Linked DNA regions of Homo sapiens: region 2 is linked to region 1. The links come from fine-mapping of genetic effects on gene expression. A gene starts in region 1. The other region holds a variant in brackets. All regions are shown on one strand. Distances are between the middles of the regions. Region 1 holds the start of SLC43A2 (solute carrier family 43 member 2). Region 2 overlaps SLC43A2 (solute carrier family 43 member 2).

The links.
Region 2: its variant is fine-mapped to the expression of SLC43A2 in blood mononuclear cells (TOPMed, PIP above 0.99).

What each region holds. Positions count from the first base shown.
Region 1 is chr17:1,625,731-1,631,088 of GRCh38, forward strand. It overlaps SLC43A2 (solute carrier family 43 member 2), which reads right to left and starts at 3,104. Exons shown (of 14, transcript NM_152346.3): 1 at 3,064-3,104; 2 at 1,985-2,190. The coding sequence starts at 2,144. RefSeq lists enhancers at 1,277-1,814, 1,815-2,352.
Region 2 is chr17:1,586,858-1,592,215 of GRCh38, forward strand. SLC43A2 (solute carrier family 43 member 2) reads right to left here. Exons shown (of 14, transcript NM_152346.3): 7 at 4,709-4,842; 8 at 4,412-4,614; 9 at 3,945-4,091. Among named protein-coding and RNA genes, the nearest start is that of PITPNA, 27 kb to the left of the region's middle. RefSeq lists enhancers at 1-410, 411-957, 958-1,504, 3,146-3,691, 3,692-4,237 and a silencer at 5,005-5,170. The variant A/C (reference allele first, on the strand shown) is at 2,362.

The DNA.
Region 1 (5,358 bases):
TAAGAAAAACCAAAATTGGAGGCAGGAGCAAAAGTTCGGGATAAGAAGTTGATGTTCAACCCACAATCCTGACCCTTCACCTTCACTTTGGTTTAGTGGAGTTACCTGTCAAGTCTGCCCAGGGCTTAAAACACCAACTCAGCACTGCGCTGGCACAATCTCTGGGACTCCTCCCACTTAGACAGAGGAGGAAGCTGAGGTTGAGGCAGGAATGAAAGGACCAGACCCAATTCTGCCAAAACCATACAATCAATTAAATCCGTGGACATTCTATTAAAAAAAAACAAAAAACAAAAAACAAACAAAAAACACCTAGAATCTGACCTTCCGACATCATGGTGGGTTAAAAAAAAAACACACAAAAAAACACCTGCCCACAACAGTTCTCTGGTCTGGGTGAGACACTAAAAGCTTTCTCTGGGGACGATGACTTTTTTTCTGCTTTTTTTTTTTTTTTTTAAACCCTGTGTCCAGCCTGAAAGAGCCCACCAGGGAGGCAAGCAGGAAGGGTCACGATCTCTAAGGGGGGAGAGAGGAAAGGAGAGGAAGAAGTAAACACTCCAACCTGTGCCTTTCGGGGACAGGCATTAATCTCCTAACAACTCTTGGCCAAAGCAGAAAGCTTGTTCAGGGAACAAGGTCTGACTCTTCCCAACTCCCAAGATTTCTTGCTGATGTGGGGAAAGACCTGCCAAGAACCCTTAGGCTATTAGGAAATATTTTTGAGTGGCTAAAGGCTAAAGGTTAGTTATAAATGATATACTTTCTGTCCTCTCCCCGCGGCCTCTGCATTCTCCTGCTTTCTCCTGCCCTGAACCTCTCCAGCTAAGCCTCCCTCCCTAGAGACTGGGACACACAGGAATCTCCGGGGCAGATCAGAGAAGGGAAACAGGGAGGCTTCCACAAAGGATTACACCCAGCATGAGCTGGTCCAAAGCTTTCTCTTCCTGCAAAGAGCTCTAGAAAGAAAAGGCCTGCTGCTGGGGATTCAGGAAGTCAAACCTGGGCTACCTCCATCTAAGGGCACTCTAGCACTGGCGACAGGGATTATGTGAGCTCAGCTATTATGCAGCTACCGTTGGGATCAAGGAGAAGGCAGAGGGAAAATTTCCTGTCAAGGTTGCCTAAGAAGGAGGGTAGGAGGCTAGAGGCTGGGGGCTGCTGTGGCCCTCCTGTGGGGCTGAATTTACTGCCCTGTAGTCATCAGGACCCTCCAACAGGGTATGAAGGTGTGAAGGTAAGTGTGTGTTGGGTGGTGCAGATGTCATGTAGAGAAGCATCCTCAGCCTGCCTTCAGCAATTCCAGTGACAAGGCAAAGAGGAGAGAACAACCCTAGCATCATTTCCATAAACGTTCCTTTCTTCTCTTCCCCTTCATCCCCATGGGGTTGGAAAGCCACGGAGATGTCCTCAGAGCCCGTGGGGGAAATGTCCTTTGGAGAATCATAAGGCAGCAAAAATAGACAAGAAATTGTGTCCAGCAAGCACTTAGGAGACTCCACAATGGCCTGAGGAACGTCTAGATTCTAGATGAGCCCTCCCTGGGGTGGAGGCAAGGCCACTTCCTCTCCTGCTGCACCCCAGCCCCTTAATCTGGAGTTCCTCTTTCTCACAAGCAGACAGCAACATGTTTACTACCAGCCAAGCTATGTTCCAGGGCTGGGAGGAGAGGAGAGCAGTCCAGCACTGTTCGTAGCGGGTGGAAGGAACACCCTGGACAGCAGGTGGGGTTCTGGGTGGATGGCAGGCCCAGGCTCTGCGGCCTTGCGCAAGACAGATCGCTCTGAGCCTCGATGTCTTCGTCCACAAAACAGGGGCAATGACAAGTACCCGGCAGGGCTGGGTGAGGATCAGATGGGCCTTCTGATACCCTAGAGGCACTGGGCAATGCGGTGCTGTGGCTCGCTAGGTCTTCGCCCCCATCCCGCCCCCTCCCAAAGCCCCAGCTCCAGGAGCCCCCCGCAACCCCAGGCGCTTGTCTCACCTGGCTCGGTACACAGGTAGGAGTAAAAGCCCTCTGACTTGAGCATGATGAGCAGCGAGCCCCAGCCCAGGAGGACTGCCGAGAAGAGGAGGTTCTCCAGCACGGCCGTGCAGGCCATCCACCAGCGGCGCCGATGGGCAGTGGCCAGGGTGGGCGCCATGGTGCGGCGCGGCGCGGCTCCGGCTCCGGCTCCGGCTCTGCACCACCTGCGCACAGAACTCGGCGTCAGCGGCCGGCCCTTGCCCAGCCCCTGCGGCCGCCCCCAGCAGCCCCGACCGCTGCCGCAGGGCTCGGGATTGCCACCCCTCCCCGGCCGCGGCGGCCGGTGCGCGCAGCAGAGGAAGCGAACCCCAGCCCTGCCCGGACCTGGGACACCCCGAGCCCGCGGCCGGCTCGTACCGCTGCCCTCCGCTACGACAGAGCCGCCCCGGCCAGGCAGGGAGACGTCTCCCGCAGCTCACTCCGAGGTAAACTGAGGCATGGAGGCAAGAAGGGGCTAACGCATGCTCAGGGCCGTGGAACTAGTCCTGGCCTGCAGCAGGACTGACATCGCCTGGGGCCAGCATGGAACGCAGCGTGAGGTGGGCAGGGGCAGATCCGAGGGCTGCCTCTCCCAGGGACCCTGACAGGTGCCCTCCCGCCCGCGCCCGAGACCCTTCCCCAGAGCTGGTTTCTTCAACCACAAGATCAGCGCCCAGACCTACGGAACGGCCCGCCCCGGCGCGCTCATTGGCCGGACGGCGCAGGAACTGCCGCGCCATTGGCCGCCGTCTAGGTCGCTAGGCGCTGCGGCCACGCGAACCCAGCGTGGGAGACGAGGAGCCGGTTCAAACCGGTGGCGCGAGCCAGCCGCGCGACCCCCATCTCGGGCGTTCCCCCGGCAACTCGCCCGTTTCCATGGCCTCGGACCCCCGCGCCTCCATTCCCCAGCCCGCATCTGTTCGTCATCTCTTCCCTGGCGGCCCCTCATCGCTCCATCTCTCTCCTCGTTCCCACGTTTTCTCCCTACGCCCCTTCGGCGGCCGCTTCTGCCCCCGCGCCCTCGCCCCGGCCGCGATCCCCTCCCTGCTGCAGCTCACCCGGCTCCTCCGGCGTGTGTCGGGCCCGCCCGGCGCCTTTTCTGCCCTCTTTTATTCCAGCCCTTTTATTCCGACCCCAAGAAGAAAACACTGCCGCCCGCTGATTGGCTGAGCGGGGCTGGAAACAGGCGTCGACCAATCAGCAGCCAGCCCCCCGCCCGCCCCGCCGCGAGCAGAAGCCGGTTCCGGCCGGACTCGGAGACAAACAAGAGAGATGGGGGACGGGAGGGGCCTGGGCGCTGCGGGCCGGGCCTCGGCTTTGCAGCCTTCAACCCGAGTCACAGCGCGGCCGGGAATCCCCGGCGACATCGCCCCGCGGCCTCTCCAGCGGCCTGACCCTGCGAGGCTGGGGCTCCGGCTCCGCGTCCCGGCCCCCAGCGGACTCCCCCCAGAAGCCGCCGGGCCACCAGCGCCCCCAGCCGGGCTCTCCCGCGGCCGCCCCGCCGTCCCCAGCTGCCCCCTGCGCGCGGGTCACCACGCCCAGATGCGCCGGCTCCGCACGGTGGTTCCACTCTCGAATCCCCACCCCGCCTCCTCCCCACGCAGCGCCGCCGTCCCCGCCGCCTCGGGCTTTGGGTCCTGGTTCCTCGCTCCCCCGCCCCGGTGGTTCCCGTCCCGGCGTATTCGGGGCCTGGGATCCCGGACCCGGTCCAGCCGTGGCGCCCCCCGCTGATGCACCGACCCCTTCCCCTCTCCCCGGTGGCGTCTGCCCGGTCCCTGGAAGTTGGCCCTTGGAAATCTGCAAGGGGATTTGGGGCTGGTCTGTCCCGTCCTAGGATGGGGTCTCCTGAGCTCCCCCCATCAGACTGACCTTTCTCCGCCCGTGTTCACGCACTGCTCGGTCCTCCGGGGACCCTCCACCCTTGATCGTCATCTGGGTGCTCCCTGCCCGCGCTGGCCACCTTCACCCCGTTCCCCGTCCCTTTCAGGGAAGGTCCCCTCTGCAGGGCGATGCTACGGGCCACGTCCGCCAGCTGGTACAAGCTAGGGAGGGTTCGAGGGGGCTCCGGGTCCCCGTCTGATAAGCCCGGGCTCCGAAAGCTCAGCTCCCCGTCTTCGTCCCCCGGATTCGAGGCACTAACCCGACCCGGGAAGACCCTCTGACTGCCCCAGAATCGCCTTGGTCACCCTGGCTCGCTCCGGGGGGCTGGCTTAGCACCCCAGGGCTGCCGCGCGGTGTCCACGTCTGGAATCCCAGCGGTTTGGGAGGCTAAGGTCGGAGGGCCACTTGGGGACAGGAGTTTGAGACCAGCCTGGGCAGCATGGCGAGAACCATCTCTACCAAAATAAAAACCAAAAATAAAACCCCACCACCACCCCAGGGCTGTGGGAGCCCCAAACGCCTCTTGCTCCACCTGCCCCAGTCCGAGTGTGCCCCCTACTGTCTAGAATCCGCCCGGGCCACCTGGCGAGGGCAACCTCCCCCAGACAACGCTTGGAGCTGTCAGCCTGCTGGGGGGCGGCTCCAGCTGGTAGCCTACCCGGTTCCTCACCCTGTGGAACCCTTCCCACTCCCAAGGTTTCAACTGCCATCTGAAAAATCTCTTTCTTCACCCTTCCCTCCTCTTTGAGCAGCCTGACGGCGCTGCAGGGCTCAAACATGCCTCAAATATCCCCCAGAACTGTCCTCCACATTTTCTCTCAGATAACCATACTACTACTGTCTACTGAAGTTAGATACCAAGAACCCTGTCTTTTTTCTTTTTCTTTTTTTTTTTTTTTTTTTGAGACAGGATCTCAGGCACCCAGACTGCTGGAGTGTGGTGGCATGATCATAGCTCACTGCAGCCTCGACCTCCTGGGCTTAGGTGATCCTCCTGCCTCAGCCTCCCAAGTAGCTGGGACCACAGGTGCATGCTACCACACTTGGCTAATTTTTGTATTTTTTGTACAGATAGGGTCTTGCCCTGTTGCCCAGGCTGGTCTTGAAGTCTTGGGCTCAAGTGATCCTCCCACCTCAGCCTCCCAAAGTGCAGGGATTACAGGCATGACTCACAGTGCCCTGCTGAGAACCATCCTTTCATCAGACATTTGTTAGGCAGTCGCTGTGATTCTGCCTCTCCCTCACCGCATCCCCATCAAACTGATACAGCTGTATCTCCTACATATTTACCTAATCGGTCCATCTGTGCCCTTAGGCCCGCAACTACTGTTGTTGAGCCACCTTCAGATTTCAGTTCCTCAAATCCAGCCCCCATCTCATCCCAGGGCACTAAGGGAAATGTAAATGTGACTTCTGCCAAAATCCTTCAGAAACTATTATTTGTAAAACAGGATAAAGTTCCAGTTCCTGGC
Region 2 (5,358 bases), 39 kb before region 1:
GCTTGAGGTGAGGAGCTTCTGGGTTGAACAGAGACTGGCTGGGAGGGGACATCACAGCATTCCCTGACAATCCCCCCCACCCCCCGCTTACCCGTGGCCATCACTGCATCAAGAAAGCAAAAGTGAAAAAGCAGAAAGAAGAGAGGTTAGTGGCAGAAATCTCAGTGCTACAGAGAGATGGGAGAGGAGGCAGGCTCACTCCATGCCCAGCACGCACTGCATTTCCCACACTGCGTTTCCCGCACTGCATTTCCCACTAAGCGTGACTCGGGGCGCTCAGGGGAGGCAGAGCTGCAGCCAGGCCTCTGGAAGTGGACTTGGGACAATGCCCAGCCCGGGCCCCTGCTGACATTCTCCTGTCTGCTGGTGCCGGGTCACAGGCGGACTGGTGAATCAGGCCTGTGACGTTGGCGGGTAGCGTGATGGGGAAGTGGCGGGCATGCGGAAGACCTGGTGCAATCAGGGTCCCTGTCACCACACTGCCTGCGGGAAGCGGCTCTGTCACATCTACCTCCTGCTGTGCTCAGAGAGAGGGAAAGGTCAAAGAACCTGCCCCTGATGCCCAGCCAAGGCATCTGACACCATGGGTCTCCTCCAGATGGCCAGAGCTGGTCTCCCTTCCACTCCAAGAAACGGGGACCATGCCTGGGCCTGCTCCCCTTCCTTGGGCCATGGCCCCCCTGCCACAGAGGCCTGGTGGCCCCTGAGCTGCTGCTCCGAGTGGAATGTCCTGGTCTAGAGGCCCTTGGCTGCTCCAGTGTCTTAAGACCCATATGTGAGTGCTGGCTCTGACCTTGAACAAGCTCCTCCATCACTCCAGGCCTCGTTTTTCAGGTGTATATGATGATAGTATCTATCATAAATGATGACGTAAACAGATGATAGTATCTATTTAACTCCTAGATTGTTATCAAGTCAAGGACAACAATAGGAAAACATGTCACCTGTCAACTCTTACAAAGGGAGGGTAGGACAGGTGGCCCCTGACTAGGGGGTGGGGGTGCAGGGGGCACCCGACCCATCTGGCCAGCCACAGCCTCTGTACCCTGCTCCCATTTTCAGGCCTCAATCCCCAAGCACTGTTGGCCCTGGACTGTTTTCCCCCCTTAATTCTGTTTCTCAATGCCTGCTTCTTCCCAGTAAGTGCCACACCCTGAGGGTGGGTGGGAGAGTGAGGCAGCAGTGCCCACTTTGGCTGGGACTGGGCACTGCTGAGGACAGCATGGGCCACGTCTTCCCCATCTCAAGACTGGCTTTTTGGCTGGGCATCGTGGCTCACGCCTGTAATCTCAGCACTTTGGGAGGCTGAGGCACGTGGATCACTTGAAGTCAGGAGTTGGAGACATGGTGAAACTCCGTCTCTACTAAAAATACAAAAATTAGCTGGGCATGGTGGCAGGTGCCTGTAACCCCAGCTACTTGGGAGGCTGAGGCAGAACAATCGCTTGAACCCGAGAGGCGGAGGTTGCAGTGAGCCGAGCTCATGCCACTGTGCTCCAGCCCGGGTGACAAGAGCGAAAATCCATGTCAAAAAAAAAAGACTGTATTTTTGGCTGGGCATTGTGGCTCATGCCTATAATCTCAGCACTTTGGGAGGCTGAGGTGGGAGAACTGCTTGAGCCCAGGAGTTTGAGACCAGCCTGGGAAAAATAGCAAGACCTTGTCTTTATGGAAAAAAAAAAAAAACAAATTAGCCAGGCATGGTGGCACACACCTGTAGTCCCAGATACTTAGGAGGCCGAGGTGGGAGGATCCCTTGAGCTCAGGAGTCGGAGGCCGTGGTGAGCTATCAGTTGCACCACTGCACTCCAGCCTGGGTGGCAGAGCAAGACCCCAACTCAAAAAAAAAAAAAAAAAAAAAAAGGCGGCCTTTTCCCAGCTGCCAGCACCCTGGCTAGTTAGGGTTTCCCTGAATCCGCAACTCCTGTTTGATGGCGGGTCTCAAACGCTGGGAGGCAGCAGAGTCACCGGTCAGCGGCAAGGCCTGGAGTCTCCATTCGGAACCAGCACCCGGGAGCCTCTGCCGCGGGTGGTCGCGGGGCCGTACGCGGAGGCGATGGCTCTGGTGCTTTGAGCCGTTCCTCAGCAGCACGGCACACCCCCTCCTGCGGAGCCGCAAAGCTCACGAGTGTGCGGAAAGTGACCCGGACCCTGCAGCTGCCTCTCGGCCGGAGCTAGGGCTATGGGTGTTGGGTGTAACGGGTCACAGAAGGAGGAGGGGGAAAACCAGTGCCTCGTCTGCCACAGACCAACCTTCCTGGCCTGGCTTCCTCTACTTCTTGAAATTGACTTTTTGAACATACGAAACAGTTGGAAACATTCCTCCTGGGCAGCAAAAGATTTCTCAGACAGCTTGAGTAA[A/C]AGACGCTGACTCAGCAGCAGGGAGATGAGCCTTTCGAGGGCCAGGGACCAGCTCTCTCTGCACACTTTGGGGTTTCCGCCACTCCAGGGCTGAATGTTTATCAGGCTGGGTGTGGAGGTTTACGCCTGTAATCCCAGCACTTTGGGAGGCCAAGAGGGGAGGATCCCTTGAGCCCAGGAGTTCGACACCAACCTGGGCAACACAGCAAGACCCTATCTCTGCAAAGAATTTAAAAATTAGCTGGGTGTGGTGGCGCGCACCTGGGGAGCCCTAAGAGGTCAAGGCTGCAGCGTTCACATCACTGCACTCCAGCCTAAGCAACGCAGAAAGAGACCCTGCCTCAAAAAAACAAGAAAGAAAGAGACATGATAGATTAGGGTTCCCCAAAGTGTGTTCCACAGATATTTTTTTTTCTTTTGAGATGGAGTCGCACTCTGTCGCCCAGGCTGGAGTGCAGTGGCGCAATCTCGGCTCACTGCAACCTCCACCTCCTGGGTTCAAGCAATTCTCTGCTTCAGCCTTCCAAGTAGCAGGGATTACAGGGGCCCACCACCACGCCTGGCTAATTTTTTGTATTTTTAGTAGAGATGGGGGTTTCACAATCTTGGCCAGGCTGGTCTTGAACTCCTGACCTCATGATCCACCTGCCTCAGCCTCCAAAAGGGCTAGGATTACAGGCGTGAGCCACCGTGCCTGGCCTAGACTACCATTTTCACAGTAGAACTGGCTGTTATCTGGTTCCCTTTGCTATCTTTTCCTTTTGATAAAGCTGGATTTCTCATCCCCTAAAAACCTGATAACTGATTCTTCACAAGTCCTAGGGTATCTTCACCTTGATAAAAACAAGGAAACCATCGGAAAAAGTGGCACACCAGGGAGGCTGCCAATAAAAAGGATTTGGAGTGTTTGTCCCGCCTGGGGATGACTAAGGCTGACTCAGCTCAGGCCCCGGGGAAGTCCTGACTTTCTCTGTAGAATCAAAACCTCTAATCAGCTGAAGACCTGCCCTGTTTGGAAAAGTGGACTGTGGGTTATCAGCTGTGTTTGTTGGAGCTGACAAGCCTCAACTGTTCGCAAGCTCCGAGGAAGTCTCTGCCCTGCCCTGTTTCTCGGTGAGGGATGCAGATCCCAGTGTGGGCCAGTTGCCCCAGCGTCTCCAGCCCCGTCCTGACCTCGATGCCCAGGGTGTCCACGCACCCACCGTGCCACTTTCTGGGAGGACTTTGGGCTTGACCTGCTGTCTTTCAGCCATGCTCAGGTGGAGCGTTCTGTTCTGTTTTCATTTACAGACACACACGGCAACCCTCCCCCTCAGGCACTGGAAAACACACACCCCACACCCCACACCCAGGAGGCTATTTTGGTCCTTCCCTCCCTCCTGGACCAGGAAACCCTGATGGGGACACGAAGAAACAGTTGGGGCTGGCAGTGATGCAATAGCTCTGACGGGCAGACAGCTCCTGGGATGCGGCCTTTCCATGGCCCGGCTGGCCCGGCTCAGCTTAACACATTCTGGCCGGTGGCCAGTGGGCTGGGCTCAGGCCGGGGAGTGACAGCGACCGAGGCTGCCCGGGGCACCTACCTGTCTTCTGGTCGCCGCTGACCAGGAACTTGAGGATGTTGTTCATAGCCCCCATGTAGAAGATGAGCCGCAGCTGCGTGACGCACATGGTGACCAGGCTGAGCAGCAGGATGGGGCTGAACACGCTGTGCATGAAGGAGGGGGCCACTGCAGGGAGAGGGTGCGGGGCTCAGGGCCGGGGCACACTGTCCCCACCACCGGGGGGACACGCAGATCCCTCCACGCTGGAGGCCAGGAGGGGGCCCTCGGGACGGGCCTGGTGAGGGTAACGGGGTTGGCGCTGCGGTGGGGTCACCTCTTGGGTGAAATCAGGCAAATCCCTTTCCCTCCCCCAGGCCTTCCTGAGCGCCTCTGCAGAACAGGGCGGGCGGGGCCGCCTCCCCTTTTGGGGTGAGGTGGGAATGGGGTGAGCCGATACCCACAGAGCACTCCCTGCCCGTCGCCCGGCTGCGGTCTCAGGCGGGTACCTGCGGCATCCGGCTGGCACTTCACCTCCAGGTCGACGGTGGACAGGCACAGCTTGTGGCCCTCCTGCAGCGCCACCTGCTCCTTGGCACTCCTCATGGAGCTGCCCACACTCAGGCGCCGGCCCACCGTGGTCACCTGCTTGTAGAACTGCTTCCCTGTGATCTTGTGGTCAAAGCCCAGCCAGCTGAACTTGATCTTCACCCTGGGGCCCCGGGAGAGTGTCTGTGGGTGCTGCCCGGGACCCCGGCTGGGGGGCGGGGGCTGGGGGCAGGCGGGACGGGGGCACCTCTACTTACGAGTAGTCCATGTCCTCCGGCCCCGGGAAGGGCTCAAGGGGCCAGTTAAAGAAGCAGTTGAGGAAAACCAGCCCGGAGCAGCCGGCCCAGACCACGAGGACGACGATGAAGGAGACACCAGCATCATAGATGAGCTGACAGGCACCGCGGGGACGGGGTGGGGGGGGGAGGGGGCAGAGTTAGCCCGGGGAGGCCAGAGCCGCAGCAGGCAGGGGCGTCTGGCCACCCCTGCTGTCCCTGTGCTGAGCCGCGCAAAGAGGCACAGCCCTGCCAGCCTGGGCGTTGGGGCATCAGGCACCCGCCTTCCAGTCCTCCCACCGTGCCTGCCCTGCTGGTCATCTGGGCCTGGCGTGTGATTAGCCCCCCGACTCGGAGGCCTTCCTGACCGCCCCGCCATGACCACGGCACGTCTTGCAGGCTCATAGTGATCGGCCCAGCAGAGGGGACGGTGCTCCTGGTCCGTCGGCTTGTCTGGTATTAGCGGAGCTCCCTGAAGGCGGGAACCGGCCAGCCCCGTCCACTGATGCTTCCCCAGTGCCTCTGAGAGCTCACATGGCAGAGGCCAAAGAAATGCTCAAGGAAGCCAGGCATGGTGGCTCACGCCTGTAATCCCAGCACTTTGGGAGGCCAAAGTGGGCGGATCATGAGGT